Linked DNA regions of Homo sapiens: region 1 is linked to region 2. Evidence: fine-mapped expression QTL. A gene starts in region 2. The other region holds a variant in brackets. All regions are shown on one strand. Distances are from middle to middle.

What was found. PIP is the estimated chance that this variant, and not a neighbour inherited with it, causes the effect. A credible set is the group of variants that fine-mapping cannot tell apart.
Region 1: its variant is the best candidate, but not a certain one, in a credible set for the expression of GASK1A in lung (TOPMed, PIP 0.55).

What each region holds. Positions count from the first base shown.
Region 1 is chr3:43,008,768-43,013,989 of GRCh38, forward strand. The region is part of intron 1 of GASK1A (golgi associated kinase 1A); the gene reads left to right. Among named protein-coding and RNA genes, the nearest start is that of GASK1A, 32 kb to the left of the region's middle. The variant G/A (reference allele first, on the strand shown) is at 2,488.
Region 2 is chr3:42,977,125-42,982,346 of GRCh38, forward strand. GASK1A (golgi associated kinase 1A) reads left to right here and starts at 2,187. Exons shown (of 5, transcript NM_001129908.3): 1 at 2,187-2,521. The coding sequence starts at 2,519.

The DNA.
Region 1 (5,222 bases), 32 kb after region 2:
TTTTGGTCACTTGAGCAAGTGGTGGCTCTGAGGAGGCACGTTGGTATCAGTCCCTGAAACCTCTTCACACGCTTTCCTCTCAGTTATGGTTTGCCAGTGTTCAGAATGCTGTGACTGTAACTGTTACCAGCCCATCCACAGATGGAGAGAGTGCGGCATGGGGCAGTAACTTAAAGGAGGTGCTGGAGTTCCCAAGTACCTTGGAGATTTAATAATCATGAGATTTAATGATAATGCTAAGTAATAACTATAAAAATGTATGCAAGGCTCTGTTCTCAGCACTTTATATACATTAAAATATGTTGAATCCTCACAGCAACTCTTTGAGGGAGGAACCATTTTCATACTCATTTTTCAGATGCAGAAATTGATGTGAAGATATATGCTTATTAGGGCAAAGCTGGGGGGTTGGACCTAGAGAGTCCAGCTCCTGTGTATCCTTCAGCGCATCCTTCTAGATGTTGCCTTTCTGAAGTGAGTGTAAGTATTTGTTGAAAGATAACACAACTCATCATCTCCCATGTCTCAGCTGGTATCAGGAACCCCAGCCAATGTAATGAAGAGACGGATCCAGGTATTTCTCAGGTCTTTAAAATCCTTCTGCTAGCACTGCTTCCCCCAGGTTATCTGGGCGCATTGAAAATGCTTCTGGATAAACCCCTGATGGCCTGAGCTAATTCTTTCCCCCATGTGCCCTGAAGTCCCCAGGGCCAGAACTGGCTCCTGTGTGCTGGGAAGGGCTTGGTCTCTGCAGGCTGGAGGCCAGAGTTGGAATCTCAGCTCTTCTACTTAGATGGTGTGTCACCTTGAGCAAATTTTGAAGTCTCTTTTTCGAGTTCCTCAGCCATAAAATGGTATGATATTTCCTTCCTACCTGTTAGAGTCATTGTGAGAATATCTGGAGGCAACATCCTTCTAGCCATAACAGTGAAAAACATGTAACAAACTCATGGTGTCATCAGATGTTGGTGGAGACCTCAGGTGGTGGCACCCAGAACTGCTGTCCAGCATTCCATGCTTCACCAGCCCTGTCCCACAAGTTTGGAAAGATAAGTGGCCTGAACGTAGGCAAGGCTAGATTTGCCAGAATTGGCATGAGGGAAATTATTATATCATTACCTTTTCACTTGAGACAGTGAGTTGCTGGGGGGCAGGGGCCAAGCCTTCTTCGCACTGGTGTCCTTATTTCTTGGTCCAGTGCTTGGCATTAGGGGAGGTCAGAATAGAAGGATAAAATTGTAATGCAGCACAATTTTTCTGGGGAGCAACCTCACCCCTACACTGTTCCTTTGGAGGAAGCTGCCTCCTGCCCCAGGGTGCTCTGGATTCCCACACTGGTTCCCTGAGGGTCTCCAAAGTACGTGCCTAACATCATATGCCTTTCCCAGTATCCTTCACTCCCTGTTGTCTACCAGTCACATGTTGGGTTCCAGGCCGTTATATATAGCAACTCAGTACCTACAATAACAGAAACCACTCTGGTGAAGGAGGGAGTCTGAAAAGGTGAACTCGTACTCAGATATTACCCAGCCAGAGCCTTCTTCCTGCTAGGCCATACTCTTCAGTAGAACCCTAATGCTTTCAGGGCTTCTCAAGAAAGCCTAGTTCTTGAGGCTTTCTCAAATCCCCGAATTTGAGAAACACCATTATAGCATTTTATATTCTCCCATGAAATACAGTAGAGTGGGCTGCAAGAGTTAAATTTTCAATTTCTATCACTGTCCTTGAAAAATAATTTTTACCTTGGCTGAGGCCTTTGCTGAAACGATTTTTTGAATTGCTTTTCGTATTTCATGAGGGTGGAGAATTCATTTGGATTATAGATTTCTGCCATCTCTAAGTTTGACATTCCTTTCTTTCTTGCTTTAAAAGCTAATATTTTCTAGGTCTTGTCTCCCTGTGTACCACTTCCTCCCCACACCCATCCCAACTGAGAACCATCATTTTCTAAGGCTTCTTTTGGTTTTCATTCCTTCCCCAGCACTAGCTATTGCCATTTGTTCTCCAAGGAAGTTTCCATCACATAATAAGATTACAATATCCCTGATGTTATGCTATGGAAGCTAAGCAGCAGAACCTGGGCAGACAGCCATGGACACATGGATGGCTCCTCCTACCATATTTGCTTGAAGTAAATGAGATTCAGATCTGAGCCTCAGAGGAATTTCAAATTGCACCCTGCCATGGACCTTTAGCCTCTTACCTTCCCCAACTCCCCCCTCTCCACCCACCAACAAATCCATTAAGGTAAAATATCTATAGTGTTTTTAACTGTTCAAAATAGTTTTCTTCAAATGTGCCAAGAGGGCATTTGCTTAGGCAGATTAAGAAATGGGCCAGGCATGGTGACTCACGCCTGTAATCCCAACACTTTGGGAGGCCGAGGTGGGCAGATCACGAGGTCAGGAGATCAAGATCATCCTGGCCAACATGGTGAAACCCTGTCTCTACTAAAAATATAAAAATTAGCTGGGTGTGGTGGCGTGC[G/A]CCTGTAGTCCCAGCTACTTGAGAGGCTGAGGCAGGAGAATCACTTGAACCTGGAGGGCAGAGGTTGCAGTGAGCCGAGGTCGCACCACTGCACTCCAGCCTGGCGACAGAGTGAGACTCCATCTCAAAAAAAAAAAAAAAAAAAATGGTTAGGAGATCACAAGAGATTTTTATTGCAAATAGGAACCTTTTTCTGTATGTAAGAACCCACTGTGTGGGCTGTCATTTACAAGGCAGGGCTGGCTTCTAGGATTTAGCACACACTGAATTGCAGCAAGTCAAGGCTGTGTGAAGCCATGGGAAATGGCTGTGTGAAGTCACAGAAAGGGACAATGTGAAGTCACAGGAAGAAGCAGAGTGAAGTCACAGGAAGGAGCAGTGTGAAACAATAGGAAGGGGCTGGAAGATGTCATAAGAAGAAATTATGTGAAGTCACAGGAAGGGGCTGTGTGGAGCCAGAGAAAGGGGCTACGTGACATCACAGGAAGGAACTGTGTGAAGCCAAGGGAAGGGGCTGTGTGAAGTCACAGGAGGAGGCTGTGTGAAGCCACAGGGTCAGTATGAAGCCACAGGAAGAGGCAGTGTGACGTTAGGAAGGGGCTGTGTGAAGCCAAGGAAGGGGCTGTGTGAAGTCATAGGAAGGGGTAGTGTGAAGCCAGATAAAAGGGCAGTGTGAAGTCACAGGAAGCGGCAGTGTGAAGCCAAAGGAAGGAGCAGTGTGAAGCCAAATAAAGGGGCTGTGTGAAGTAACAGGGACAGTGTGAAGCCAAAGGAAGGGGCAATGTGAGGCCAAAGGAAGGGACAGTGTTGAGCCATAGGCAGGGGCTGTGTGAAGCCACAGGAAGGGGAATGGGAAGTCACAGGAAGGAGCAGTGGGAAGTCACAAAAAGGGACTGTGGAAAGTCACAGGAAGGGGCAGAGGGAAGTCACAGGAAGAGGCTGTGGGAAGCCATAGAAAGGGGCTGTTTGAAGCCACTGGAAGGGGCTTCTGAGGTCACAGGAAGGGGCAGTGTGAGGTCACAGGAAGGGGCTGTGTGAAGCCACTGGAAGTAGCTGTGTGAAGCCACTGGAAGGGGCAGTGTGAAGCCACTGAATGGGACAGTGTGAAGCCACAGGAAGGGGCTGTGTGATGTCACAAGTAGGGGCAGGGTGAACTTACAGGAAGTGGCTCTGTTAAGCCACAGGAAGGGGCAGTGTGAAGCCACAGGAAGGCACAGTGTGAAGTCACATGAAAGGGGCTGTGTGAAGTCACAGGAAGGGAAGTGGAAAGTCACATGAAGGGGCTATGTGAAGTCACAGGGAAGGGCAGTGTGGAGCCACAGGCAGTGTGAGGCCACAGGAAGGAGCTGTGTGAAGTCACAGGAAGGGAAGTGGAAAGTCACATGAAGGGGATATGTGAAGTCACAGGGAAGGGCAGTGTGGAGCCACAGGCAGTGTGAGGCCACAGGAAGGAGCTGTGTGAAGTCACAGGAAGGGAAGTGGAAAGTCACATGAAGGGGCTATGTGAAGTCACAGGGAAGGGCAGTGTGGAGCCACAGGCAGTGTGAGGCCACAGGAAGGAGCTGTGTGTAGCCACAGGAAGGGGCAGTGTGAAGTCACAGGAAGGGGCAATGGGGTCACAGGAAGGGGCTATGTGAAGTCAGAGAAAGGGGGGTTGTGTGAGGCCACAGGAAGAAGCAGTGTGAAGCCACAGGAAGGGGCTGTGTGAATCACAGGAAGAGGCAGTGTGAAGTTACAGAAGGGGCTTTGTGAAGCCACAGGAAGGGGCATGGGAAATCACGGGAATGAGCTGTGGGAAGTCACAGGGAGGGGCAGAGGGAAGTCACAGGAAGGGGCAGTGGAAAGTCACAAGAAGGAGTGTGTGAAGCCACTGAAAGGGGCAGTGTGAAGTCACAGGAAGGGGCAGTATGAGGTCACAGGAAGGGGCTGTGTGAAGTCACTGGAAGGGGCAGTGAGAAGTCACAGGGAGTGGCTGTGGGAAGTCACAGGAAGAGGCAATGTGAAGCCACAGGAATGGGCAGTGTGAAATCGCAGGTAGAGGCTCTGTGAATCCACAGGAAGGGGCAGTGAGAAGTCACAGAGGCAGTGTGAAGTCAAAGGAAGGGGCCGTGTGAAACCACAGCAAGGGGTGCTGTGAAGTCACAGGAAGGGGCAGTGTGAGGCCACAGGAATGGGCAGTAGGAAGTTACAAGAAGGTGCAGTGGGAAGTAACAGCAAGGGGCTGTGTCAAGTCACAGGAAGGGGCTGTGTGAAGCCACAGGAAGAGGCAGTGGGTAGTCACAGGAACAGGCATTGTGAAGCCACAGGGAGGGGTATTGTGAAGCCAAAGAAGTGGCAGTGTGAAGCAACAGGAAGGGACAGTGGGAAGTCACAGAAAGGGGCAGTGTGAGGCCACCAGAATGTGCAGTGGGAAGTTACAGGAAGGTGCTGTGTGAAGTCACAGGAAGGGGCTGTGGGAAGTCACAGGACAGGGTAGTGTGATATCACAGGAAGGAACTGGGTAAAGCCACTGGATGGGGCTACGTGAAGTCACAGGAAGTGGCTGTATGAACTCACACAAAGGGGCTAGGTGAGGTCAGAGGAAGTGGCAGTGTGAGTTCACAGGCAGGGGCTTTGTGAAACCACAGGAAGGGGCAGTGGGAAGTCACAAGAAGTGGCTGTTGGAAGTCACAGGAAGAGGCAGTGTGAAGTCACAGGAAGGGTAATGTGAAGCCACAGGAAGGGGCTGTGTGAAG
Region 2 (5,222 bases):
AACTGAAGAGGAATGGAGTGTGCAATCTTAAATAGAGTGGTCAGAGAAGGCTTCACTAAAGAGGTGACACTTGGGCAAAGACCTGAAGGAGATGAGGGAGCAAACCATGGGGATATCTGGGGCATTCTAGGGAGAGGGATAACAAGTGCAAAGGTCCTGAGGTGGGATCTTGCCTGTAATATGCAAGGGACAATAAGAAGGTGAGTGTGTCCTGGAGCACAGTGAGAGAGAGTGTGCAGAGATAATGTTAGAGAACCAATGAGGGCCAAAGTGTGAAAGGACTTGTAGGCCCCTGTAAGATGTGGCATGTTACACTGCAGGAGATTTGAAGCCTCTGGTAGGTTTTGAGCAGAGAAATGACAAAAATCTGATTTATGACTCTTTTCAAGTAATTCTTCTTAAAAGTAATTTTATTCATGTTATTAGGATGGACCAGGATATGCTATAACAACAAACAATTCTTTACAGCTTAGCCATGTTCTTGTGTGACATTTTATTTGGCTGGGCTAGATCCTGCAGCAGCTTTTCCCAAGTGTGTTCCATGAGTCATTGGAGCTGCTTCTTTTGAAAAACAGTTCTGCTTCCAGTAATCCTGGAAATACTGGGCACTCTCTTCCTGTCTAAGTTAGTGATTTGAGACCATCATTAAAAATACATAAAATTGGAATAGAATAGAAAATGTCAGAGTGCATCACATGAAGTAATGTTTTATAAAACAATCTTTTAGTTACATTTATACATATATGTTTAATATATATCTTGTGTGGGGTCACAGTCAGAAAATGAGACTCAAAAGATCACAGCGTCTCCCTAAACATCTAAATAAAACCCTGAATGGTTTGTACTGTCCTCCACCCTCTTCCCTCATTTCCCAACCAGGGCTCAAACTCTCTGTCCTTTCAGTAGTCCATATGCACAGACAAGCTGCAGTTTGCAGTGCTACATCCTGCCTCCTGTTCCTGCCATATCAAGTCTTCCTCTTTGTTTCATGTTCTGGCAAATAGACTTGGATTTGCTAAACTGTTTACTGGCGATCTGGTCTCAGGAAAGTTACTTCACCTCCCTAATCCTGACTTTCCTAATTTGCAAAAGTTTTCCTTTTAGGATCGTTTGTGGTTATTAAATGAAATAATGTACAGAAAGCATCTGGAATGTTAAGGACCGAATACTTTCCCTTCATCTGTTCCTCCTGCCCATACACACATACACAATTTAAGGGGACTCTCTGGATCTTTGCTTCCCTTTAGAAGCACTGCCATCAGTGATAACCTCAGATCATTCTGGGGCAGGAGACTGCTGGGAAGATGCCTGTCTTCATCTAGCTAATGATGCTTCCTGTTAGTTTCAGTACTGGAGGCTAATTTTTCAGCCTGGCCCCCAAATTCTCTCAGAGCACCCTACTGCTGACTCTGCCTCGCCTCCATCCATTGTCTACAGGCTCTTAATAATCCTGGGGTCCAAACATTGGGCCACTGGGGGACACAAGTCATAAAGACGTCTGGGGACTGGTCGATGGTCATCCAGCTGTTAATAGTGGGGCTAGCCCTGATTTTGGGACTACAGAACCCCTAAGCCCAGGACATTCCCCAACGGGGAACGGATAGACTCTCAGGTCTTGCTCTGACTGTGCCTTTGTTGGCAGTAGGTGACTCAGGGGACACAAAGGCACTGTCTGTGCATCCAAAGCAGAGAGGTATCAGCCACTTACTTCAGTGACTTTAACAGTGATTAGTTCTCAAGGACAAAAACTCTTCATTGTTAATTAGCTTAGTGGTCAACGGATTTTCCTTCCAAATCCTCTTGGGGACTGAACCCAAACAAGGCGAAGAAGTGACAGTAAAAAAAGACTTGTCCTTCTGACAAGCGACAGTAAAGAAAAAGACTTGTCCTGCTTGGCAGGAGAGGGTGGCAGTTTGGGCAACACTCAGCCATATTGCTGAGTTGCAGCGAACTCACCAAGCACCCTCACACCTTAGAGGCGTCCCTCACCGTCCAGCCTTGGTGCATCACCCGTCAGGCGGGCAGTCAGGGCGTAGACCTTTCCTTCCTAGCACCTGGGCCCCTACTCCAGAAGACCAGAAGACTGCGGCTGGCCGAGCCCCCGGCAGGGCTTTTATTGTGAAGGGAGCTTCCCCCTCCCGCGCTTTCAGGGGAATGGGGAAGCTGGGCCGGGACGCGCGGCAGGGACTTTGCAAACTCTGCAAAAGTCCCGAGTAGACCGCAGAGGCTCGCGGCCGCGGGTAGGCTCCCTCAGATCCCCGTAGATCTCAGTAGATCCGGCGTGTATTCCCCACCCGCGGAGTATCCCGGTGTGCAGCGATCTCCCGAGAGTTGGCGCAGGGCCACTTGGCTGCAGAGAACGTGTGCACCTTCAGTCCGGGAAACCCGCCCCAGCCGAGTAGCCGCGCATCCTGGGAAGCCTGGCGAGCCACGGCGCCGGGGGCGGCCAAGGGGAGGCGGGATGAGTCTGCGAGCCGGCTGAGCGCGCCGAGGAGCCGGCCGGGGCACCGCCGGGGACATGGTAGGACTCGCGGGAAGGAACGCGCGAGCGGAGGGTGGGGCGATCACCAGGACAGGTGGCTGCAGTCAACGCGCAGCGGCCCAGGGCGCGCGCAGCCTGCGCGGCCTCCCGAGGCCGGAGTTGTTCCCCGAAAGTTGCATGGGGCGGCGGCGGCTTTCATTTCTGCACCAGAGCTGGGGGCGATCGGCTTTCCTGCCGCTCTTAGTGGGGCGGACCGTAATAAGGGGGCTTTTATTACTAATCTGCACTCCTTGACCTAACCGTAACCCACTCGCAACTCTGCAATCTTCATGCAATCCACAAGGCAGGGAGAGGGGAGCGTTCCCTGGGGAACCCACGGCAGCCTCTGATGAGATGCTTTTGAAGTCATTTTAATACTCTCCAAAGTTCATGTGAATTTTATACTATCTTCTCTAATTTAGCTATGTATTGATATTAAAAATAATGTCCTAACGTTTATTAACATTTAATAACTAAATTAACATTGAGTTAAATTGGCTCTAGTAAGGTTCCAATCCGCCTTCCTCTACCTCCCCGACAGGAGGACTGTTGGGCAGATGTGGAAGCACTGGTGGGTCTGGGATGTCACGATGAAACCAGGATCTTGTGGACGTGGCCCTTCCATTGATCAACTTCACAGACACTAACAGGCAGAAAAGAAAAACCCATCGAGAATGTGGCCCAGGCGGCTTAGCTAAAGGACACATGCAACCCCAGGAAAGGGGCGTCCCTCAGGCCCGGCCGCTGGTTAGTTGCTCTGCTTCTCCCGCAGCAGAAAACCCCTGCAACCCCAACTGGGCTCCTGCAGTTCACTGGGCTCCCCTGGCTGCTTCCGTGCCTGCTCGCCTCTTCCCTTTCCTTCCAAGCTCACAGAAGGCAGATCGGAACCCACTGGAGATGCTTTGTGGGGAGTTTTGCTGGGCCTGGGGTTTAGAAGGCTGTCTAGAGACTGCGCTGTAGGATGGAGGGTCTCTGTGAGAACAGCTCCTTTGTGTGCAGGGGGGCCTGGCAGGTGGCTGGAACAGAGGTGGAGGGCTGGTCATAAGGAGCTGGGGGCTCAGGGAAGGGTACCTTTGAGGCTAGGGGTGTGTGTATGTTTCACCCCTCCTAACACCTATCCAGCTTCAGGTTTTTTCTCAAAGCTGCTAAGAGAAGGAAATAGTGGAATCTTAAGCTTCAAAAGGGGGAATGATTGGGGGTACAGGATGTGAAACGAAAAGTGTGGAGATATCCTATTACAAATTCCCTGTTTAGGAGCAAGAGTGTTACCAGAACTCAGGCCACAGCCATCCACTCCGAGGGGCATTAGCATGCTGGAGTCTCCTGGCTTTAAAGGCAAATGTAGCAGAGGCTCTGTGGTCTGCGGCTGAAGCAGAGTGCCTGGAGGAGAGATGGTACCTGCCTTCTGCTCAGGCTGCCTAGGGGAACATTGGTGTGTTTGCCCCACTGCCAGCGTAAGCTTCCCGTTCTGTGAGTCATTGCAGCTTCCCGGTTTCACGTCCCTGGCTCTGGGTTCTGGTATTGTGTTAGGAAGAGGACTTGTGTCAACATTTCACTGTCTCAGGGTTCACTTGCAGAGAGAGGGGCCTGATGGTCATCCTCTGGCAGTGAAATGGCCTTGGAGATCTGAAGGCTGTCCTTTGCTTCTCCATCTGAATGAAGGGTCTTGAGGTCCAGAGACCACAGGGCAGCCTGGCACTGGCTAGAAGCAGCATGGGAGGAGACAGGGGGCTAGGAATCCTTTGAGGACCTTAGTTTCCTCTTCTGTTAGATGAGAGATTGGACTAGATGTTATTCAAGGTGCCATTTAGCTCCAAAAATGGGTGATATGTGAATAATTTTGAGATTGGATCTCAATTCTAGTGTTGAGCTGTGCTTAGCATGAACAACTAAAAAGGTGTGGGGAAGAAGTGGTTCTCAGCCCTGACTCAGGCTGCCCCCATCCCCCAGCCCAAATCCAGATGAGACCCAGACCAAGGGATGTTTTCAGGCTCTGCAAGTGAGCCCAGTGTGCTGCCAGGGCTGAGAACCACAGGGCAAGAAGGCTGAGAGAACGGGAGAAAGCTGGGGCTCAAAGCTGCACTTCCCAAGATATCCCTATGTCCACAGAGTGGTCATTCCTTGAGATAGTCCTAAAATAGTTTTTGGGAAATGATAGATGCTATATCATTTCCCATTATATGATATCACATATATCACATGCTATATCTCTTTGAGGGTCCTTCCACAGAGTATTGTCTTTTAATTCATTACACTGAGATTTGAACTTGCCCAGCTTGTTTGAATACGGTATCCTTTATTCAGTATTTCCCTAATGCCATCCTATTATTGATCCAAGATACGTATGATGGGAAACTCTGGGTTAGAAGTATACAAATAAAAGTATAGAATCCTTAAATGTCCTTTTGAAAAAAAGAAAAAAGAAAAGAGCATTGAGCTGCAGTATCTGCGGGGGCATTTTTGATTATCCTGAGGAGTCAGGGGTCATTGCCATGGCTTGGTGTGTATTTTTCTAAAGCGAAGATTGGAACACTTGTCAGTTTCTTTCTTTGCAGTGGTGGTGGGAGGTTTGGTGTTTGCCAAGGACTCTGTACTTGATGAAAAATATTGATAGAATCAGATATATATGTGTTGGGTTAAAAATTAAAAAAGAAAAATATTGATAGAGAAAGTTGAAACTATTACTGCCAATTAAAAAATG